5 linked regions of the Homo sapiens genome follow. The protein of the gene in region 1 purifies or fractionates together with the protein of each later gene. This does not show direct contact. Each region holds a gene or a part of one and is shown in the gene's direction. Other genes may lie near its edges.

Region 1 (4,105 bases):
CAGAAATCATGTCTTATTTAGGTCTTTTTCTCTCTGTCTCTCTTTTTTTAATTTAAAAAAATATTTTGTGGAGACAGGGTCTGACTATATTGCCCAGGCTGGTCTTGAATTCCTGGCCTCAAGCAATCCTTCCACTTTGGTCGCCCAAAGTGCTGGGATTATAGGTGTGAGCCACTGCGCCCAGCCTCTTATTTGGATCTTAATGCTTTGCATAGGAACATGATTGTTCAAAAATAAAAGGTTTACTCTACACATAGTAAAATCTCAAATTTGTATTTTATTAAATTAGAATTGGAAAATACTTATATCCTGATTATTTAAAGTGGCAGAAAAAATGCCAGTAAGGGTATAGAAAGTGGGCAGGATGGGGTTACAATTTAGGAATAGTGACTGGTAAAGACCTGAGGGGGTGACAGTTGAGGAAAGCCCTGAAGGAGTTGAGAGAGTGAGCCACGTGGATCCCTGAAGGCAGAATATTCTTGCAGAAAGTAGGTGCAGTGGCACCCAGGTCTGTTTGAGGATCTGCAGGGAGGCAAGTTTGTCTGTAGTAGGAGGAGGAAGGCAAAGAATTGGCCCTGAAGTCAGAAAGGTCATGGAGAGCCACCTCCTAGAGAGTCTTACACGACATAAGCACTTTGGCTTTTGCTTGAGTGAATTGAGGAGCTCTTGGAAAGCTTTGAGCAAAGGAGTGATCTAACTTAGGTTTAAAGAGGATCATTCTGACTGCTGTGATGAGAGGAAACTGGGTTGGAGTGGCTAGGTCAGAAACAGGAAGCCAGCTGGGAGGATAATGCAATGATCCTGGTGAGAGGTGAGGGTGGCAGAGATGAAGGGGAGGTAGCAGTGGAGGCCTTGAGAAATTTTTAGGATATTGTTAAGGTACAGTCAAAAGGATTCTCTAGCTGTTTGGATGTGAGGTGTCAAAGGAAGGAGTGACCTTTTGTGTAACATGCTACTAATATAGCAAGTGAGGAGAGAACCAAGACCTACCCATCAGTTTAGCAAAATGAAAGTCTTTGGTGACCCTTATCAGAAACAATTTGGTGGAGTTTGTGGGGAAAGCCTCACTGAGTTGGAGAGAGAATGAAAGGAGAGGTAATAAAGACAGTAAGTTTATTAGATTCTTAAGAAGTTGCGTTGTAATCCCATTAAATAGTAGTCATATGCAAAATACAATTCACATTATAAATCCTGCCTCTTTCAGTGATGCTCCAGTGAGTGAACTGTCCCTCGAGCTGCTTCTGCTTCAGGTTGTCTTGCCAGCATTACTCGAACAGGGACACACGAGGCAGTGGCTGAAGGGGCTGGTGCGAGCGTGGACTGTGACCGCCGGATACTTGCTGTGAGTATGGGCAGCTGACTCCTTGGACATGCATGTCATTTGTGACTATGGAATAACCTTTCTGGAAAAAGTATGTTCCATGGCCCACTCAAGAAAAATTAGTTTTAATAAGAGACAATTTAGTAATATTTGCAATTGCATATAATACTTCTAAATGAAATTTTTTTTTCTTATTGTCCATCCTTTCATGGAGAATATATACATCTTTTTGCCCTCTTATAGAAGTTTGCTGCTGGTCCAGCTTTCATGGAGTAAATGTCTTTTTTTTTTTTAGTGCATTAAAAACAAACCAGTTTACCTTTATTTAGACCAACTAACTTACCTTTATTTAGTGCTCATAACCTGGGAAATGGGTTCTTCTCAAATTTGATTTCTCAATCTTCTAGTGAACATGTTGCATTTTTTTCCCCAAGCTTTATATACTCTATATTTATTTAAAAGTTGAATCTTTAAAAGTTTTTCAGTTTGGCATCTTGTAGGTATCTTAAAGGTGAAGTACAGATTTGGTTATATTTGCTTGAACATCTGTCGTCCTCTAACTGCTTCCTCCCCCAGTCTCATTTCTGACCTAACTGATTTATAGCTTGGAGGTTTTACAAATTTATAGCTTGTAGCTACATGTTGCAGTAGTCATCTGTAGAGAAGATAAGAAGTTTTTCTTTTCCTCCTGTAGATCCTTAACAATATTGTACATTGTAAGTATGTACTTACACCTTGTGCTTGTAAGTACTTACCTCTTGTACTTACAAGTGTACTTGTAAGTATCTTGTACATTGTACTTTTTTCTTTCAGTTACTGATTTCTTCTCAGATACTGGCTGAAGAAAACGTAAAATAGGTTGAATTTATGGGATATCCTACAAGTTCATTAACATTAGAAAGGTTTGATTTAAAGTGGGTACAAACATTTAGACCAAAATTAGGTAATAATGTGGTGCACAAATTCTGTATTATACATTTTCTACCCTTAGTAGTAAATATGAAGAAAATGAGTGTCATGTCTGCCATTTTATTGTGACCTGAAGTGAGACTTGTTACTGATGTAATTTTTGCACAGGGATCTTCATTCTTATTTATTGGGAGACCAGGAAGAAAATGAAAACAGTGCAAATCAACAAGTTAACAATAATCAGCATGCTCGAAATAACAACGCTATTCCTGTGGTGGGAGAAGGCCTTCATGCAGCCCACCAAGCCATACTCCAGCAGGGAGGGCCTGTTGGCTTTCAGCCTTACCGCCGACCTTTAAATTTTCCACTCAGGGTAGGTGCTATACAGACTTAATCACATATAGAGGTTTTTTTGGTTTTTTTGTTCTCCAAATTGCTGTTGAGAATTGGTGCTATTAGTATGCAGTCCTCTGTGTAGACATGTTCCACATTTTATTACCCTCATTATGTAACGTAAATGATTAGGTAAGTTTATCAAATTTTAGAGATAAGTCAAAGAGTTGGGATTCCCTGGGCTCTTGCTCCCTATTTAAGAGGAAAAGACTCTAGAGTAATTAAGAAACTAACATTATTGATACATTTCAACAGTGTGTCAGGAACTAGAATGGGCATTTGGATGTTTTCTCATTTAATCTCCACTCAAATACTGCAAAGTGTAGGCGATAATTTCATGTTTATAGCTAAGGAAACTGAAGGCAATATTGGTTAAGAATGTGCCTATTACATGTTCGTTAGCAAGTGATCAATCTTTGTGCACCTCAGAATTTTGTCAGAAATGTAAGCTGATGACTGCTATATGATTACAGTGAAGTCATCATTTATATCAAGTCTGTTATTTTAAAATGCCCTTTAATAATGACATGGGCTTGTGAGTCTGATCATTTTAAAACTTGGGCAGGTTATTTAACCTCTCAGCCTCACATTTCTTTTTTTGTAAAAATAGTCATTATTATACCTTTGTAGATTACTGTGGGTCACATGTGTTCAGTCATTCAGCAAACATGTCTTAAGTGTCTATGATTGATATTTTCAGTGTCTGTGAGGATATAGAGAGCATACGTGGTCTTTGCTCAGAAAGAGCTTACAGTCTACTCAGATGAGAAAGACAGTGGCAGATTTGAGCTCTCATGCTGGTGTTTACAGTGGGTGCTGTGACTCCTTCAATCAAGAACCACTTGTTCTTAATATGGACCCAAAGGAATCTTCCTAGAATAGGTGGTGCCTGAACTGTCTTAAACATTGAGAGACCTGTCAGAGAGTGAAAAAAAGGAAGTGGGAAGGGCATTCCAGGAATATGTCAGGACTAGGGCACATTAGGCATGGTGGGCTTAGAATTGCAGATAAGAGAGTTGTGTTGTTTTGTTTTTGAGACAGGGTCTTGCTCTGTTGCCCAGGCTTGGTTGCAGTGTGCGATCATGGCTCACTGTAGCCTTAACCTCCTGGGTTCAAGCGATCCTCCTACCTACTCAGCCGTCCGATTAGCTGGGACCATGGGTGCATGCCACTACACCTGGCTAATTTTTATATTTTTTGTTGAAATGGAGTTTTGCTATGTAGCCCAGGCTGTTCTCAAACTCCTAGTTCAAGCAGTCTGCCTGCCTCGGCCTCCCAAAGTACTGGAATACAGGTGTAAGCCACTGCGGCTGGCCTAATTGAATATATTTAGAGGGTGAGGTGTATGTCCAGGAGAGGTGAGGAACAAGGGGAGAGATGAGGGGCCATGGGAGTGGTGAGGGATAAGGTGGGGAAGAGGTGAGGGACAAGAGGAGTGGTGGGAGATAACGCTCTTGAATGGGCAGGAACCAGATAATGGAG
Region 2 (4,105 bases), on another chromosome or scaffold:
AGTGCAGTGGCGCAATCTCAGCTTACTACAGCCTCAACCTCCTGGGTTCCAGCGATCCTCCTGCCTCAGCCTCCCAAGTAGCTGGGACTATAGGCGTGTGCCACCACACCTGGCTAATTTTTGTATTTTGTGTACAGACGGGGTTTTGCCATGTTGCCCAGGCTGGTCTTGAACTCCTGAGCTCAAGCGATCTGCCCGCCTCAGCCTCCCAAAGTGCTAGGATTACAGGCATGAGCCAGCCACCACGCCTGGCCTTTCGCTCACTCTTTACCTTGCCATCTGTTACTTATTCTTCAGGTCTTAAATCAGACATCACTTGTTCTGGGAAGTCTTTCTGGTTACCCTTTGGCAAATCTCCATTTCGTGCCTCATCTATTAATGTGTCCCCAGAGCACCATGTACTGCCTTTAACTTTCCTGTCATCCTGTTTGCCATGCTGCACTGTAATTCCTTACACTGTGATCCCTATGAAGACTGGGACTTGGTGGTTTTGCTTTTTTGTATCCTCAGCATCCAGCACAGTAACTAACTCAAAGTGGATACTCAAATGTTGAGAATTTGGTAGAAAAGATGTTTGCTTTAAGAACTTAGGAAAAAGCAAAGAAAACCATATGGCCTATTGGGGGTTAATCTTAATTACATCCTCCTCCTAAGATGTCATCTCTTGTTCATGCTTTAAGAGTCCAATTATGCTTTTGCAGCTATCGTTCTAATGGGTAATACACATGCTGTTGTGCTATGTAGCTAGAATAGAGATCTTTTTATTTCTTATGTACTTCTATCAGTTTGACTTGAAAGAAACAGGTATATTGGGAAGGGGAAGAGGGAGAAGAGACTGTATCCGTAAGTAATATGGTGACATTGGCAGTACTGAACGTGCTTATACATAGATAGAAGATAGAAGTAAAAGTGATGTTGCTTATAACCACAGTAAGTTTTATATCTTTTATTCTACAGTTATTTGTTTCATTACATCTGCCAAGACAGGATTGTATATCTTTGTATCACTGATGATGTAAGTAACTTGAAGACATATTGCTATTTAACTATGTGTACTGTTAATACAGCCAGTTCTTAATTATCTATACCAGGGGTCCCCAACCCCCAGGCTGCAGACCGGTACAGGTCTGTGGCTTGTTAGGAACCAGGCCACATAGCAGGAGGTGAGTGGCCTATGAGCATTACCACCTGAGTTCTGCCTCCTGTCAGATCAGCAGCAGCATTAGATTCTCATATGAGTGTGAACCCTGTTGTGAACTCTGCATCCGAGGGATCTAAATTGCATGCTCCTTAGGAGAATCTAATGCCTGATGATCTGAGGTGGAACAGTTTAATCCCGAAACCATTCACCCTCCCCCAGTCCTTGGAAAAATTGTCTTCTACAAAACCGGTCCCTGGTGCCAAAAAGGTTGGGGACTGCTGATCTGTACCTATAGTGGGCAAACGTGATGCGAACTTTACATAGCTGGAATTGTTAATATTTTGCATTTGTCATATAGAGCAGCAAATGTTAAGAAAACTTGATACTGGGGTATGTGCAAATCAACTCAATTTTGGTAGAGTTTTAGCTTAGCCTCTTGCAACTTCTATATTTATTCTATTTTGTAGTGAGAATTGATGTTCATAATTATAATTCTTTGATATCAAAACCTCTCAAAAATTGTTTACGTGGAATGTTAAATTAGATAGCATCATTTCTTCTATCAGTAGTTAATGAATCCTTTAATGTATGTGAACTTTGGAAAAACAAAATTACAATACATTATGATCAGCTATATAAACCTGTAGTTTACATTGGTTAGGTATGACTGTTTGTCGGCTCTCAGCCCAAAATTCTCAGTAACTTAATGATGTCATTAAGGTCCTTTCTCTTCTCTGCTTATCTCCGTGTCTCCTTCTTCCCAGACAGGTTGCCATTATGGTTTCGTAGAGCTACATACTTATTTATTCATGTCCGGAGTAGAGGGACTGTGTCTTCTTGAGTGTCTTATTGTAGGAATGAGGAAGCTTTTCCCAGCTGCATGCCCTCCCCTCCCCCTGCTTTCAAAGTGAACTTCCTTTCATGTCTTATTGGCTGCATGCTCATTTCTAAACTGCCTACTGGCAAAGAGACTTGGAATTGGCATGGTTGCCATAGATCAGGGTTCCTAATCTTTATTGTATCACAGACTCGTCACTTGTGGGACACTCCCAGAATGTTTTTGTTTTCTTTTTTTAATTTTCCTTTTCCAGAATGCTTTTAAATGTATAAAACACACACAATTCTAACAAAGCCAATTATATTGAAATATATATATATATAGTATTCAAAATATTTTAAAAACTTGATGTAGTAATATATATGCTTCTTTATGAACTCATTAACAAGATCTAGTCATAGGTCTAATAACTAATAGTCTTGATGTGATGGGTGTTGACAGTATTTTGAGATATCTGTAACTGTGATGGTATACAAAAAAAGATTTCTGTTGGTGACAGTTACAGGTACTGTTTAATACTACCCCGATTATGAATATACAACCTATATTCACAATTGAAATATAAGTTAACGATTGATAAAAATAATGATGTGATTTTCTTTTTTTCTATCCAAGTTCAAAGGCCCCTTGAATTTGGACCATTGACCCCAATTTAAGAACCCTTGGCTTAGACTAAGCATCTTGGGTGAAAGGGAAATGACTGTCAACCATAGTGATCATCACAATGATTTTTATCTCTGGCTTCACAATATTTTCCAAAAGTACGAAAAAATCTAGCTATATGTGAAATGACTGATGTGAAACAGCTTGGAATAGAAGGAAAATACTAATGAAATCTGGGATAGTTAGAGTCGAGCCTCATATTTCTTGAGCTATAATTTGATACACACATATACATGTATACATAAACACACATACACACATTCATTTTTTTCCTCTAAGGTATTCTTACAGAGAACACACATACTTTTTGGCTGGCTGGGATTAGACATGAGTATGTCACTTGATCTTTTCAAATATACCACCACTATTGAAAAAATTCGATTTGAAGTTAATATCAGTAGTAGTATCTGTATGTGTGAAAGACTCTATGATTATTATGGGATTTATTAAACATATTCTTGTGCTGGGCCTTCTAATAGATCTTATGAAATATATGGAGGAAGTAAAATTCAATTCCTGATGTCAAGAAGTTGATAACCTAGGTATCATTATCTTCAGTTGTCAATGACCAGATATATCTGGATTCATTCTCAGCTCTTTCATTTACTAGTTGTTGGACCTTTGGACAAGTTAGTTACTTTTTCAGAGCCTTCCTTTACTTATCTTTAAGATAGGATCAATGCTAGTTCCTCCTCAGATAATCATTGCTCAGTAAATGTTAGCTGTTTTTTATTGTTGTTCTTAATCACTCACATCATCTTTGTTTACTTTCTAAATGTGAGTTCTGTGTTGATCTCTTTTCAGGATTTTGAACGTTCCCGAGCCTTTAATTTTCTGAATGAGATAAAGAAGAGGTTCCAGACTACTTACGGTTCAAGAGCACAGACAGCACTTCCATATGCCATGAATAGCGAGTTCTCAAGTGTCTTAGCTGCACAGCTGGTAAGATCTTTCTCAGGATAAGGTATTTTGATTTATATCTTCTTCATTACCTTCAAACACTATGAATCTAGGGGGCCCTGACCTGCAATATAGTTTTCTGATTGTGTTACTGTAAGCCAACATAATAAAACTTCCCTGATTAAAAAAAAAATGTAAAGGGGCCATTTTAGGGTAGAAAACAGTGATAGTCTTTATTATCTCTATTAATAGTGGTCACAGTGTCTCATGATTGGAAGAGCATTAAAGATCATCTAGTTGAACTACCCATCTGATGCTTAAATGTGTTCAGCATGCCAAATGATCTTTTAAACTATACGTAAACCTTCTACCCTTCCATGAGGGAAATTTAATTTTCTAACAACCCAAATTAATAATTTGAAACTCTCCTCATCTGTATGAATCCCTAATTGTCAGCTTAGTGAGGTTTTACATGTGAATATACCTGTGAAATACCACTGTACTTAAGACAGCATTTTAATCACCCTAAAAGTTCCCTCATATCCCTTACCAGTTGGTCCCCT
Region 3 (4,105 bases), on another chromosome or scaffold:
ACATAGTGAGACCCTGTCTCTAAAAAAAAAACAAAAAAAACAAAACAACAACAACAACAACAAAAAACAACAAAAAAAGCCAGGCATGGTGGCATGTGCCTGTAGTCTTTGCTACTCCAGAGGCTGAAGTGGGAGGATCCCTTGAGCCTGGGAGGTCGAGGCTGCAGAGAGCTATGATTGCACCACTGCACTCTGGCCTGGGTGATAGAGCGAGACCCTGTCTCAAAAAATAAATAAATAAAATAAATAAAAATGAAAAAGCTTCTACATATGCATTAGAAGCTTTAATTGACCTCCACTTAATTGACTCACCACATTGAATAATTTTTATTTCCTTTGTAAAATACAGTGTACACTGAATACTTGGTATTAGTTGGTTGATCTCCAGTACTCCAGCGTGCTTGTTTACCTACCAGTACAGTAAATTTTTTTACTACTAAACCTGTATATGTTGGTTGTATTTGTTTTTTTGTTTGTTGGTTGGTTTGTTTGTTTTTGAGATGGAGTTTTGCTCTTGTTGCCCAGGCTGGAGTGCAATGGTGCAATCTCGGCTCACTGCAACCTCTGCCTCCTGGGTTCAAGCAATTCTCCTGCCTTAGCCTCCCGAGTAGCTGGGATTATAGGTGCCCACCACCATGCCTGGCTAATTTTTTTTGTATTTTTAGTAGAGACGGGGTTTTGCCATGTTGGCCAGGCTGGTCTTGAACTCCTGACCTCAGGTGATCCACTTGCCTCAGCCTCCCAGAATGCTGGGATTACAGGCGTGAGCCACCGTGCTAAGCCTGCTTGTATTTGTTTTTAAAAGGTAATTTGTTTAATATGTTGTAACCTGACAATATATGAGTGGGGGAGATTGGAGTTCTTTTTACTGAAAATTTACAAATGAAATAATATGATGTCTGGGATTTGCTTAACATTATACAAGGGGTGAGGGATGGAGGTGGGTTGTGGGTAGTATGGAAGAAACACAATTCAGCACATATGAATAACTGTTGAAGCTGGGTGATGGTTACATTAGATTCATTATGATGAAACAAATTGTTTTGAGAAGAGTTAATGAAAACAAGTTGCAAAAAAAAATACTGTCCGCTTAAATGTGGGTAAGATGACTATACAAGATACGTGGAAAAAATATAAAAATCTAAAAGAGTTTTATTTTATTTTATTTTATTTTATTTTTTGAGATGGAGTCTCGCTCTTTTGCCCAGGCTGGAGTGCAGTGGCGTGATCTCGGCTCACTGTAAGCTCCACCTCCCGGGTTCACGCCATTCTCCTGACTACAGGCGCCCTCCACCACACCTGGCTAATTTTTTTGTATTTTTAGTAGAGACAGGGTTTCACCGTGTTAGCCAGGATGGTCTCGATCTCCTGACCTCGTGATCCGCCCGCCTTGGCCTCCCAGAGTGCTGGGGTTATAGGTGTGAGCCACCGCACCAGCCATCTAAAAGGGTTTTATACTCACATTACTTGTCAAATGTAAAATCAATGGGCCTGGAGTTAGAGAAAAAGGTCTTGGCCTCTTGGCCCCATATAGAAAGTTTGAGGCTGGCATGGTGGCTCATGCTTGTAATCCCAACATTTTAGGGGGCCAAAGCAGGAGGATTGCTTGAAGCCAGTTCAAGACCAGCCTGAGCAACATAGCAAGACCCTGTCTCAAAAAAAAAAAAAAAAAATAGCTGGGTGTGGTGGCACACACCTGTAGTCCCCAGTCACTCAGGAGGCTGAGACAGGAGGATTGCTTGAGGCCAGGAGTTCAAGGTTGCAGTGAGTCATGATCACACCACTGCATTCCAACCTGGGAGACAGAGTGAGATCCTGTCTTTAAATAAAAAAACAAAACAAAACAAAAACAAAAAAAACCCCAGGTCAGGTACAGTGCGTCATGCCTGTAATCCCAGCACTTTGGAAGGCCAAGGCAGGCAGATCTCTTGAGGCCAGGAGTTTGAGACCAGCCTGGGCAACATGGTGAAACCCCATCTCTACAGAAAATTTTTATTATTATTATTATTGAGACGGAATCTCGCTCTGTCGCCCAGGCTGGAGTGCAGTGGCATGATCTCGGCTCACTACAACCTCCGTCTCACAGATTCAAGCGATTCTTCTGCCTCAGCCACCCGAGTAGCTGGGATTACAGGTGCCCACCACCACACCCGGCTAATTTTTGTATTTTTAGTAGAGATGAGGTTTCGCCATGTTGGCCAGGCTGGTCTCAAACTCCTGACCTCAAGTGATCTGCCTGCCTCAGCTTCCCAAAGTGCTGAGACTACAGGCGTGAGCCACCACGCCTAGCCCAAAAAATACAAAAATTTAGTTGGGCATGGTGCCATGTGCCTATGGTTCCAACTACTGGGGAAGCTGAGGTGGGAGGATTGCTTGAGCCCAGTAGGTGGAGGTTGTAGTGAACTATGATCACTCACGTCATTGCATTCCACCCTGGGTGACAGAGTGAGACCTTGTCTCAAAAAAACAAAAACAAAAATTAGCCAGGCATGGTGATGCACAACTGTAGTCCCAGATACTTGGGAGGCTGTGGCAGGAGGATAGCTTGTGCCCGGGAGGCAGAGGTTGCAGCGATCCAAGGTCACTCCACTGCATTCCAGCCTGGGCATCAGAGCAAAACCCTGTCTCAGAAACAAACAAAAAAACAAAAAAGCCCCCCAAAAATAAATAAACCAAAACCACACACACACAAAGTTTGTTGAATGAGTATATATATACCACTGATGAAAGGAAGGTGAAATGTTTGCCATACATATTTTTATGATCGTTTACCTGAAATTAACCTTTTAAATTACATAACCAATTGTTCTAAATCACATTAGATAAAAGGGTTTCTACTGCATAATATCCATAATATATAAAGAGCTCCTAAAGATCAATAAGAGAAAGGTACCCACTACAAAAAGCAAAAAGTGGCAGAAGATTATACATGGGCATTTCCCAGGAAAAGAAGTACTGGTGAATAAAAAAGAAAAGATGTTCAAATTGACTCTGGTTATTAGGGAAATGTAAACCGTTTTTCACCAGACAGATTGGCAAGAACTTAATATCCACTTTTAACAAATAGGCATTTGCATACACTGTTAATGAGAGTTCACATGTATAACTCTTTGCTGAAGAATACCAAAATCATCTCATTTTTAAATGTGCATACATTTTGACCCAATAGTTTTATTAGAAAACAATTCTAGGGAAATATTACATGTGTATAAAACTATGTATAAGGTTTCGCTGCAGTGAAACTGTTTGTAACTGTGAAAATTTGGCAGTATCCTAAATATCCATCAGTAGGGAATGATTTAAATAATGGTAAGTTATACTGTGGAATACCATTGAGTTATTAAATAAAAAAAGAAGAAAAGCCTCTTGGTTAGACATATATATACACTGACATAGGAGTTCCAAAGTATGCTGTTAAGCAGGGGAAGAGAGGGGGAGGGAGTCAAAGAACAGTTGTATACCATAATTCCACTTATCTAAAAATAAACCCTTATCATGTGTATGGGTAATACAAAACAATCTGATTGATACACATCAAGAGTAATTATCCCTAGAGGAAAAGAGAGTGGTGTTAGAGGAGGGCAGTATAGTTTTACTTTTTCTCTGTACAATTCTATATTATATATTATAATTTACAATTACAATTTTGATAGTAGGTATGCAGATTACTATTATAGCAAAATACAATTACTATTTTGATAGTAGGTATGCAGATTACTAATATTAAACATTTGCACACTGGAGGATGCTTATAATAGGATTCCTTCATTCTACAACAACACTCTACTGTAAATGTAATTAATGCCTTGTACTGAACACTCAGGTTTTTAAAAAAATGATGTTTTCTGCTATCGATGAAGTATTGGTATTTTCTAAATTTTTGACACCAAAAATATAAGTATAAAAAAGAATAAAAACAGTAATTTCATACCCAGAAACATCCATTGTCAACTTTTTGGTATATATGCTTGTGCTTATATGTATGGACACTTGCATGCACATGTGCACACATATATCACCTTTCTACAAAAATGGGTTTTTACTGTACATACTGATTTGTAACTTGCTTGTTTAACTCGACACTATATTGTGAGCATCTTGCAGC
Region 4 (4,105 bases), about 170 Mb from region 1:
GTCTCCTCTACCATGGATGCATTCTGGAGTGACAACTCCAGTTGCCTCCAAGTACAGCCGGTTAACAGGCCCATGAAGGTGCACTCCTCAGTGACCTTTTGGTGTATTCATGACCATCCTGTTTTGGAATACCACGCAATAGTTGCCTCACCTCTTGTTGTTGGTTGATTTGAGCATCGCTGAAACTCTTGCCACTCCGTTTTCCTTCTCAGGCTGCTGTACAGGACAGATTGAATGAGCAAGAGGGCGTACCTAGTGTTTTCAACCCACCTCCATCACGACCCCTGCAGGTTAATACAGCTGACCACAGGATCTACAGCTATGTTGTCTCAAGACCTCAACCAAGGGCAAGTTATTTCATAGCTGGGATTTCCCCCTTTTTTATTTATAAGTATATCCACTTGGTTATATTGATCTCCCTGTGACAGGAGCAAAACAAATATTTAGAATGTAAACCTGTTAGTTAGACTTGGCCCGTTGGGTGTATTATTTTGCCTTGATTCCTCAAGGAATTGTTACAGAAACTACTCATTTTTTTTTTCTTTTCTTTGCCAGTTATTTGGAGAGTGTTTTCTGCCTCTTAAGTTACAATTTGTTTACTCAAGTTCTTTGTTGCTTCAGTTTACTTAATCTTAAACCAGTTTTGAGGAAGTATATGGAATCTTTGTAGGAGCTTTGGCCACGTCTTTGAAATTAGCCTTGAAGGGCTAGTAGCAAGGAGGTGGTTCACTTAAATTTGACAGACATTTAAGAGTACTCCAATAACCTGGTATCTTGCTACTAGGGATCCAGACATGAATAAAGAGCCAGTCTTCCCATTTCAAATTCAATTTCTCACAGTCTATTGAAGGAAGTCAGATGTGTACACTGATAATGAATTCTAAAGAACTGCTTGGACTTTCTTTTTCTTACCCCTGGGGTTATACTCACCTCTTATACTTTTATACTTGCATTTAGAATCCTAAGAAAACACTCCCTTTAACATTGCAGCAGTTAGAATTTACTCCATCATCAAGCCTTTTTGTGGAGTACTTGATTTTTGTTGTGTTTTGTTCTGTTTGAGACAGGGTCTCACTCTGTCGCCCAGCCTGGAGTGCAGTGGCATGATCTTGGCTCGCTGCAGCCTAGACCTCCCGGGCTCAAGCAGTCCTCCACCTCAGCCTCCTAAGTAGCTGGGACTACAGGTGTGCGCCACCATCCTGGTTAATTTTTGTATTTTTTGTAGAGATGGGGTCTTGCTATGTTGCCCAGGCTGGTCTTGAACTCCTGAGCTCAAGTTATCTGCCCACCTCAGCCTCCCAAAGTGCTGGAATTACAGGCTTGAGGCACTGTGCCTGGCCTACTTGATGTTTTAAAACATGTTTCTAAGTAGTGCTCTGTGGTTTTCTGAAGTACAGTAGCAGATTCCCATGTCAGCCATGGGGCTCCAGAGCTTCCTGGCCACAGACACAGAAAGTGTCTCAGGTTAACACAATGTGACAACTATGAAATGCTTTATAAACTATAGAGCCCTGGATGTATGCTAGTTTTAATAATTAATAACAGCAATAATAATTAGCATTATTACTAAGATAAGCAGCTATATGGGGATTTGTCATTGTGGTTAATATAATTATTTAATGTTTATATACCAATGTCCAAGGTTAGTAATAGTGATTATCTTTCTTGCTATTTCTATATACATTATTTTAGGTTTTTATGTTTGTTTGTTTTGTTTTGGGACAGAATCTCCCTCTGTTGCCCAGGCTGGAGTGCAGTGGTGTGATCTCAGCTCACTGCAACCTCAGCTTCCCAGGTTCAAGCGATTCTCCTGCCTCAGCCTCCTGAGTAGCTGGGATTACAGGCGCCCACCACCGCGTCTGGCTAATTTTTGTATTTTTAGTAGAGACAGGGTTTCACCATGTTGGCCAGGCTGGTCTCAAACTCCTGACCTCAAGTGATCTGCCTGCCTTGGCTTCCCAAATTGCTGGGAGTACAAGTGTGAGCCACCACACCCAGCTAATTTTTGTATTTTTAGTAGAGACAGGGTTTTACCATGTTGACCAGGCTGGTCTCGAACTCCTGACCCCAGGTGATCCATCCGCCTCAGCCTCCCAAAGTGTTGGGATTACAGGCGTGAGCCACCAAGCCTGGCTTATTTCTGTATACCATATTTTGATGTGTAAATCTAAAAAGGAAAGAATGAGTGTGTATCATTTGGGGAACATTAATTTGCAATTGAATTTGACAAGTCTATAAGTAGCTGCCAAAAATAAGTATTAAGGCAGTTTTGGTTTTTATTTGTTTGTTTGTTTTTTTGAGACAGAATCTTGCTCTGCCCCCAGGCTGGAGTTCAGTGGCGCGATCTCAGCTCACTGCAACCTCCGCCTCCTGGGTTTAAGCAATTTTCCTGCCTCAGCCTCCCTGAGTAGCTGGGACTACAGGTGCATGCCACCATGCCTGGCTAATTTTTGTATTTTTAGTAGAGATGGGATTTCACCGTGTTGGCCAGGCTGGTCTCAAACTCCTGACCTCAGGTGATCTGCCCCACTCAGCCTCCCAAAGTGCTGGGATTACAGGCAGGAGATACAGCTCTGGACCTTAAAGCAGATTTAATACAAAAATTCTGCAAAAAAAAATGATAGTAAGATGAAATAAGACCAAAGATGGTGGCACTTAGAAGGATGAGGTGGCCAGGAAGAAGGAACTGTACTTTAGAGGAACAAATCACATGGAAGGACCAAAAAGAGTGAGAAAATCTGACCTAGCCATTTGATAAAATATTAGGGATTGAGAGAATTGTCTCTAACTTTGTTTTTGGACTTTCAGGGGCTGCTTGGATGGGGTTATTACTTGATAATGCTTCCATTCCGGTTTACCTATTACACGATACTTGATATATTTAGGTATGTACCTTTGGATTTATGTATTAGTAGAATAGTAAGACTTTGGAGCTGAAATTTAGGCCAAAATAAGCTTTATGCTCTATCAATGTTGACTTACCAATTTGTCATGAGATGGAATACACTTCCCGAACTGTCTTTTAATACAACATACAAGTATTTTAAATTGTTGAAGCATTGGCAGGCATTGTGAAATGGAATTGTTTTTAAATTAGTCTTACCTTTTGTTTGCAAAAACCAGTCTGACTATATTTATTTGTCTCCCCCTCCCCCCCCCACCATATTTGTCACCTCTACACTTCCTAGTTGATGTCCACACCCTTTCCTTTCTAACCACTATCATCTCCTAGCTTCACACTCCTTAGAACTTTCTTCCTCAACTACTTCTCCTCCACCTGACTACTCACAATCCCAACAAATTCTCTTGCTCTGAGATTACCCAGTTTGCCCTTGATTCCTCCCACAATAGTTGGACCTCCCTAGACACTCCTGTTACACCTTTTCTTTCTTTTTCTTTCTTTTTTTGAAACAGAGTCTTGCTCTGTCGCTGTCACCCAGGCTAGAGTGCAGTGCCACCATCTCGACTCACTGCAACCTTCACCTCCTGGGTTCAAGCGATTCTCATACCTCAGCCTCCCAGATAGCTGGGATTACAAGCATGCGCCACCACGCCTGGCTAATTTTTGTATTTTTAGTAGAGACAGTAGAGATGGAGTCTCATTTTGTTGGCCAGGCTGATCTTGAGCTCCCGGCCTCAAGTGATCCACCTGCCTTGGCCTCCCGAAGTGCTGGGATTGCTGGCATGAGCCACCATGCCTGGCAGCTTCGGTACCTTTTCACTTTGCTCTGGCAGCCCCTAGGTTGCAAACACTGGAACCCTTTTATGTATATACCCACTTGCTTCATACCTTCACCTTTCTTCTAGCTTCCTTCATGTACCATTAAAAGAGCTCATCATTGGAAGCTACAGAGGGTCCAAGGCCAGAAAATGAGTGGGGCTCAACTGGCCGGGCTCTGTGGCTCACGCCTGTAATCCCAGCACTTTGGGAGGCTGAGGTGGGCGGATCACAACGTCAGGAGATCAAGACCATCCTGGCTAATACGGTGAAACCCTGTCTCTACTAAAAATACAAAAAATTAGCCGGGCGCGGTGGCTGGTGCCTGTAGTCCCAACTACTCAGGAGGCTGAGGCAGGAGAATGGCGTGAACCCGGGAGGCGGAGC
Region 5 (4,105 bases), on another chromosome or scaffold:
TTGGTAGAGATGGGGTTTCACCATGTTGCCCAAGCTAGTCTTGAACTCCTGGCCTCAAGTGATCCTACCACCTCAGCCTCTCAGCTGGGATTACAGATGTGAGCCACCACAACTGGTTGTTTTGTTCTTGATGTACCTTAAGTACCTAAAACAGTGCCTGAAATATAGCAGGTACTCAGTAAACATCTGATGAATTAACGTGTTTGGATTGTTCTGTGTTGTCACAGAAAGAGGGTTATTTATAACCATATAATAGTAAAAAAAGACAGTCAAAATAATAGGCATTACATTTAATCTGTAGATCACTTTGGGTAGTATGGACATTTTAACAATATTAATTATTCCAATCCAGGAACATAGGATATATTTCCTTTTTTTTTTTTTTGTCATCTTCAATTTCTTTCATCAATGTTTTGTAGTTTTTAGTCTTTCACCTCCTTGGTTAAATTTATCCCTAAGTTTTTTTTGTTTTTTTTTTTTAAGTTTTTTTCTTGTACTATTGTAGATGAAATTTTCTTGATTTCTTTTTTGGATAGTTTGTTGTTAGTGTATATTGTATTTTTATATGTTGATTTTATATTCTGCAACTTTTTTGAATTTATTAGTTTTAACATTTTTGGTGGAGTCTTTAAAGATTAAGGATTTTTATATATAAGCTCATGTCACCTGCAGACAGACAATTTTACCTCTTTCTTTCTGGTTTGGATGCTTTTTGTTTTTATTTCTTTTTCTTACTTAATTGCTCCAGCTAGGACTTCCATTACTATAATGAACAGAAGTGGTGAGAATGGGCATCTTTGTCTTATTCCTGATCTTAGAGGAAAAGGTTTAGCTTTTGACTGTTTGAGTATGATGTTAGCTGTGGGCTTGTCACATATAGCCTTTATTATGTTGAGGTATATCCCTTTTATACCTAATTTATTGAGAGTTTTTATCATGAATGGGTTTATTATGTTGAGGTATATCCCTTTTATACCTAATTTATTGAGAGTTTTTATCATGAATGGGTGTTGAAATTTGTTAAGTGCTTTTTCTGGATTTATCAAGATGATATGATTTCTATCCTTCATTCTATTAATGTGGCATATCTCATTTATTGATTTGCATATGTTGAACCATCCTTGCATTCCACAGATAGATCCTACTTGATCATGGTATATAATCTGTTTAATATGCTGTTGAATTCAGTTTGTTAGTATTTTGTTGAGAATTTTTGCATCTATGTTCATCAGAGATATTGACCTGTAATTTTGTTTTCTTCTAGTGTCCTTGTCTGGTTTTGGTAGCAGGGTAATACCACCCTTATAAAATGAGTTTGGAAGTGTTCCATTCTCTTCAATTTTTGGAAGAGTTTGAGAAGGATCGGTCTTAATTCTTCTTTGAAGAAAGTTTGCTAGAATTCACCATTGAATCCATCAGGTCCTAGGCTTTTCTTGTTGGGAGGTTTTTGATTACTGATTGAGCCTCCTTACTCATATTAGTATGTTCAGATTTTCTATTTCTTCTTCATGATACAGTCTTGGTAAGCTGTATATGTCTAGAAATTCATCCATTTTTTTCTAGATTATCCAATTTGTTGATGTATAGTTGTTCATAGTAGTCTCTTAGGATCCTTTGTTTTTTCTGTAGTATAAGTTATAATGTCTCCTCTTACATTTCTGATTTTACTTGAGTCTTTTCTTTTTTTCTTATTCTAATTAAAAGTTTGTCACTTTTTTATCTTGTCAAAAAAAACAACTCTAAGTTTCATTGATCTTTCCTGTTATTTTTCTAACTTCTATTTCAGTTATTTCTGCTCTGTTATTATTTCCTCCCTTCTGCTAACTTTGGGCTTAGTTTGTTCTTTTTCTAGTTCCTTGAGGTATAAAGTTAAGATTTTTGAGATTTTTCTTTTTTCTTAATGTAGACATTTATCACCATAAACTTTCTTCTTAGAACTGCTTTTGCTGCATCCCTTAAGTTTTAATATGTTGTGTTTCCCTTTTCATTTGTCTCAAGTTTTTTTTATTTCCCTTTGACTCATTGGTTGTTCAAGAATATGTTGTTCAATTTCCACATTCATGTGAATTTTCCAATTTTCCTCCCTTTACTGATTCTAGTTTCATAATGTTGTAGTTGAAAAGAACTTGAGGCCAGGCACACTGGCTCACGCCTATAATCCTTGCACTTTGGGAGGCTGAGGTGGGTGGATCACGAGGTCAGGAGTTCAAGACCAGCCTGGCCGACTTGGTCTCTACTAAAAATACAAAAAAAAAATAGCTGGGCGTGGCAGCGGGTGCCTTTAATCCCAGCTACTCAGGAGGCTGAGGCAGAGAATTGTTTGAACCCGGGAGGCGGAGCTTGCAGTGAGCCAAGATCACGCCACTGCACTCCAGCCCAGGTGACAGAGTGAGACTCCGTCTCAAAAAAAAAAGAAAGGATACTTGAGGTGATTTCAGTCTTACATTTGTTAAGGCTTGTTTTGTGGCCTAACATATGCACTATCCTGGAGAATATTCTCTGTGCACTTGAAAAGAATGTATATTCTGCTGCTATTGGATAGAATGTTCTGTATATGTCTGTTAGGTCCATTTGTATGGTGTTGTTCAAGTTTGCTCTTTCCTTACTGGTTTTCTGTCTGGATGATCTATCATTGAAAGTAAGTATTGAAGTCCCTTACTATTATTGTATTGTCGTCTACCTCTTTCTTCAGTTCTGTTAATGTTTGCTTTATACATTTAGGTGCTCTAATGTTGAGTGCATTTATATTTACCAATGTTATATGCTCTTGATGAATTGACACCTTTATCATTGTGTGGTAACTTTCTTTATCCCTTGTGATAGTTTTTTACTTAAAGTCTATTTTGTCTGATATAAATATAGCCACCCCCGGCTGGACATGGTGGCTCACGCCTGTAATCCCAGCTCTTTGGGAGACCAAGGCGGGCGGATCACGAGGTCAGGAAATCAAGACCGTCCTCACTAACATGGTGAAACCCTGTCTCTACTAAAAATACAAAAAATTAGCCGGGTGTGGTGGCAGGCGCCTGTAGTCCCAGCTACTTGGGAGGCTGAGGCAGGAGAATGGCATGAACCCAGGAGGCAGAGCTTGCAGTGAGCTGAGATGGCACCACCGCACTCCAGCCTGGGTGGCAGAGCGACACTCCGTCTCAAAAATAAATAAATAAATATAGCCACCCCTGCTCTCTTTTGGCTACCATTTGAGTGGAATATCTTTTTTTTATCTCTACTTTTAGCCTATGTGTCCTCTTACACACATAGGCCTTTACAGATGGCTTCAGCAGGGGAAGCCCTTACCAGGTAGCTCATCCAGAGATTCTTGGGGGGGCAACTGACAGGTTCTGCAGGTAGGTGGGCCTGGTGCCTTGGTCTTTGGGGGTAGCTTGGAGGCTGGGTCCTCTGCGGCAGGCCTGGCAGTGGAATCCACTAGGGTGGACCTTTTAAGTGGGTCTTCAGGTGAAACACCTGGAGCCCGGTAAGTAGATCTGCAGGAGCCAGCCTGGTGCAGGGGTGGGCCCTACCCTGAGCCTGCAGGGGCTGGCCTGATGCAGGGGTCCACTTGGCTGGGTCTGTGAGAGTGGACCTGGAGCCTTTAAGTTTCTTAAAGACAAGACTGGATCTTATTTCGAACCACCATCACATCTTGTACGGTGTCTGAAGTATATCAGGTGCTTATCAAGTTTATTTGTGTAGAGTCAGCCTTTAAACATTGTTCAGAGGCTTTGATGTAATGCAAAAATAAAATAAACGGAGACAGGTTACCCATGAGGAAATATTTGCTTCCAGATATTGTAGTACATTTCAGAATCAAGAGTATGCCACTGAGCTACAACTCAACAACAAACAAATAGCCTGAATAAAAAATAGGCAAAGAACTTGTATAGACATTTCTCCAAACACAATATAGAAGTGACTAACAAGCATATAAAAAGAGGCTCAGCATCACTAATCATTAGGAAAATGCAAGTCAAAACCACAATGAGGTATCTCCTCACACAGATTAGGGTGGCTACTATTTTAAAAAGTGTTGGCAAGGATATGGAGAAATTGGAGCCCTGGTGCACTTTTGGTGAAAATGTAAAATGGTGCAGCTGCTACAGAAAAC

What was found.
Region 2: the proteins of MARCHF6 (region 1) and VAMP7 purify together in Homo sapiens (affinity purification with mass spectrometry, with the first as the bait; one large-scale study listed by BioGRID). This does not show direct contact.
Region 3: the proteins of MARCHF6 (region 1) and ACSL4 purify together in Homo sapiens (affinity purification with western blotting, with the first as the bait; one study listed by BioGRID). This does not show direct contact.
Region 4: the proteins of MARCHF6 (region 1) and FAF2 purify together in Homo sapiens (affinity purification with western blotting, with the first as the bait; one study listed by BioGRID). This does not show direct contact.
Region 5: the proteins of MARCHF6 (region 1) and SORT1 purify together in Homo sapiens (affinity purification with mass spectrometry, with the first as the bait; one large-scale study listed by BioGRID). This does not show direct contact.

What each region holds. Positions count from the first base shown.
Region 1 is NC_000005.10:10,408,935-10,413,039, forward strand, and holds part of MARCHF6 (E3 ubiquitin-protein ligase MARCHF6), read left to right. Parts: intron 1-1,204; coding exon 1,205-1,342; intron 1,343-2,398; coding exon 2,399-2,603; intron 2,604-4,105. UniProt on the Homo sapiens protein: Endoplasmic reticulum membrane-associated E3 ubiquitin ligase that plays a critical role in mitigating endoplasmic reticulum stress, the regulation of cholesterol and lipid homeostasis, and ferroptosis.
Region 2 is NC_000023.11:155,894,666-155,898,770, forward strand, and holds part of VAMP7 (vesicle-associated membrane protein 7), read left to right. Parts: intron 1-957; coding exon 958-1,015; intron 1,016-3,446; coding exon 3,447-3,584; intron 3,585-4,105. UniProt on the Homo sapiens protein: Involved in the targeting and/or fusion of transport vesicles to their target membrane during transport of proteins from the early endosome to the lysosome. Required for heterotypic fusion of late endosomes with lysosomes and homotypic lysosomal fusion.
Region 3 is NC_000023.11:109,722,816-109,726,920, reverse strand, and holds part of ACSL4 (long-chain-fatty-acid--CoA ligase 4), read left to right. Parts: intron 1-4,105. UniProt on the Homo sapiens protein: Catalyzes the conversion of long-chain fatty acids to their active form acyl-CoA for both synthesis of cellular lipids, and degradation via beta-oxidation. Preferentially activates arachidonate and eicosapentaenoate as substrates.
Region 4 is NC_000005.10:176,486,143-176,490,247, forward strand, and holds part of FAF2 (FAS-associated factor 2), read left to right. Parts: intron 1-212; coding exon 213-347; intron 348-2,808; coding exon 2,809-2,885; intron 2,886-4,105. UniProt on the Homo sapiens protein: Plays an important role in endoplasmic reticulum-associated degradation (ERAD) that mediates ubiquitin-dependent degradation of misfolded endoplasmic reticulum proteins.
Region 5 is NC_000001.11:109,328,318-109,332,422, reverse strand, and holds part of SORT1 (sortilin isoform 1 preproprotein), read left to right. Parts: intron 1-4,105.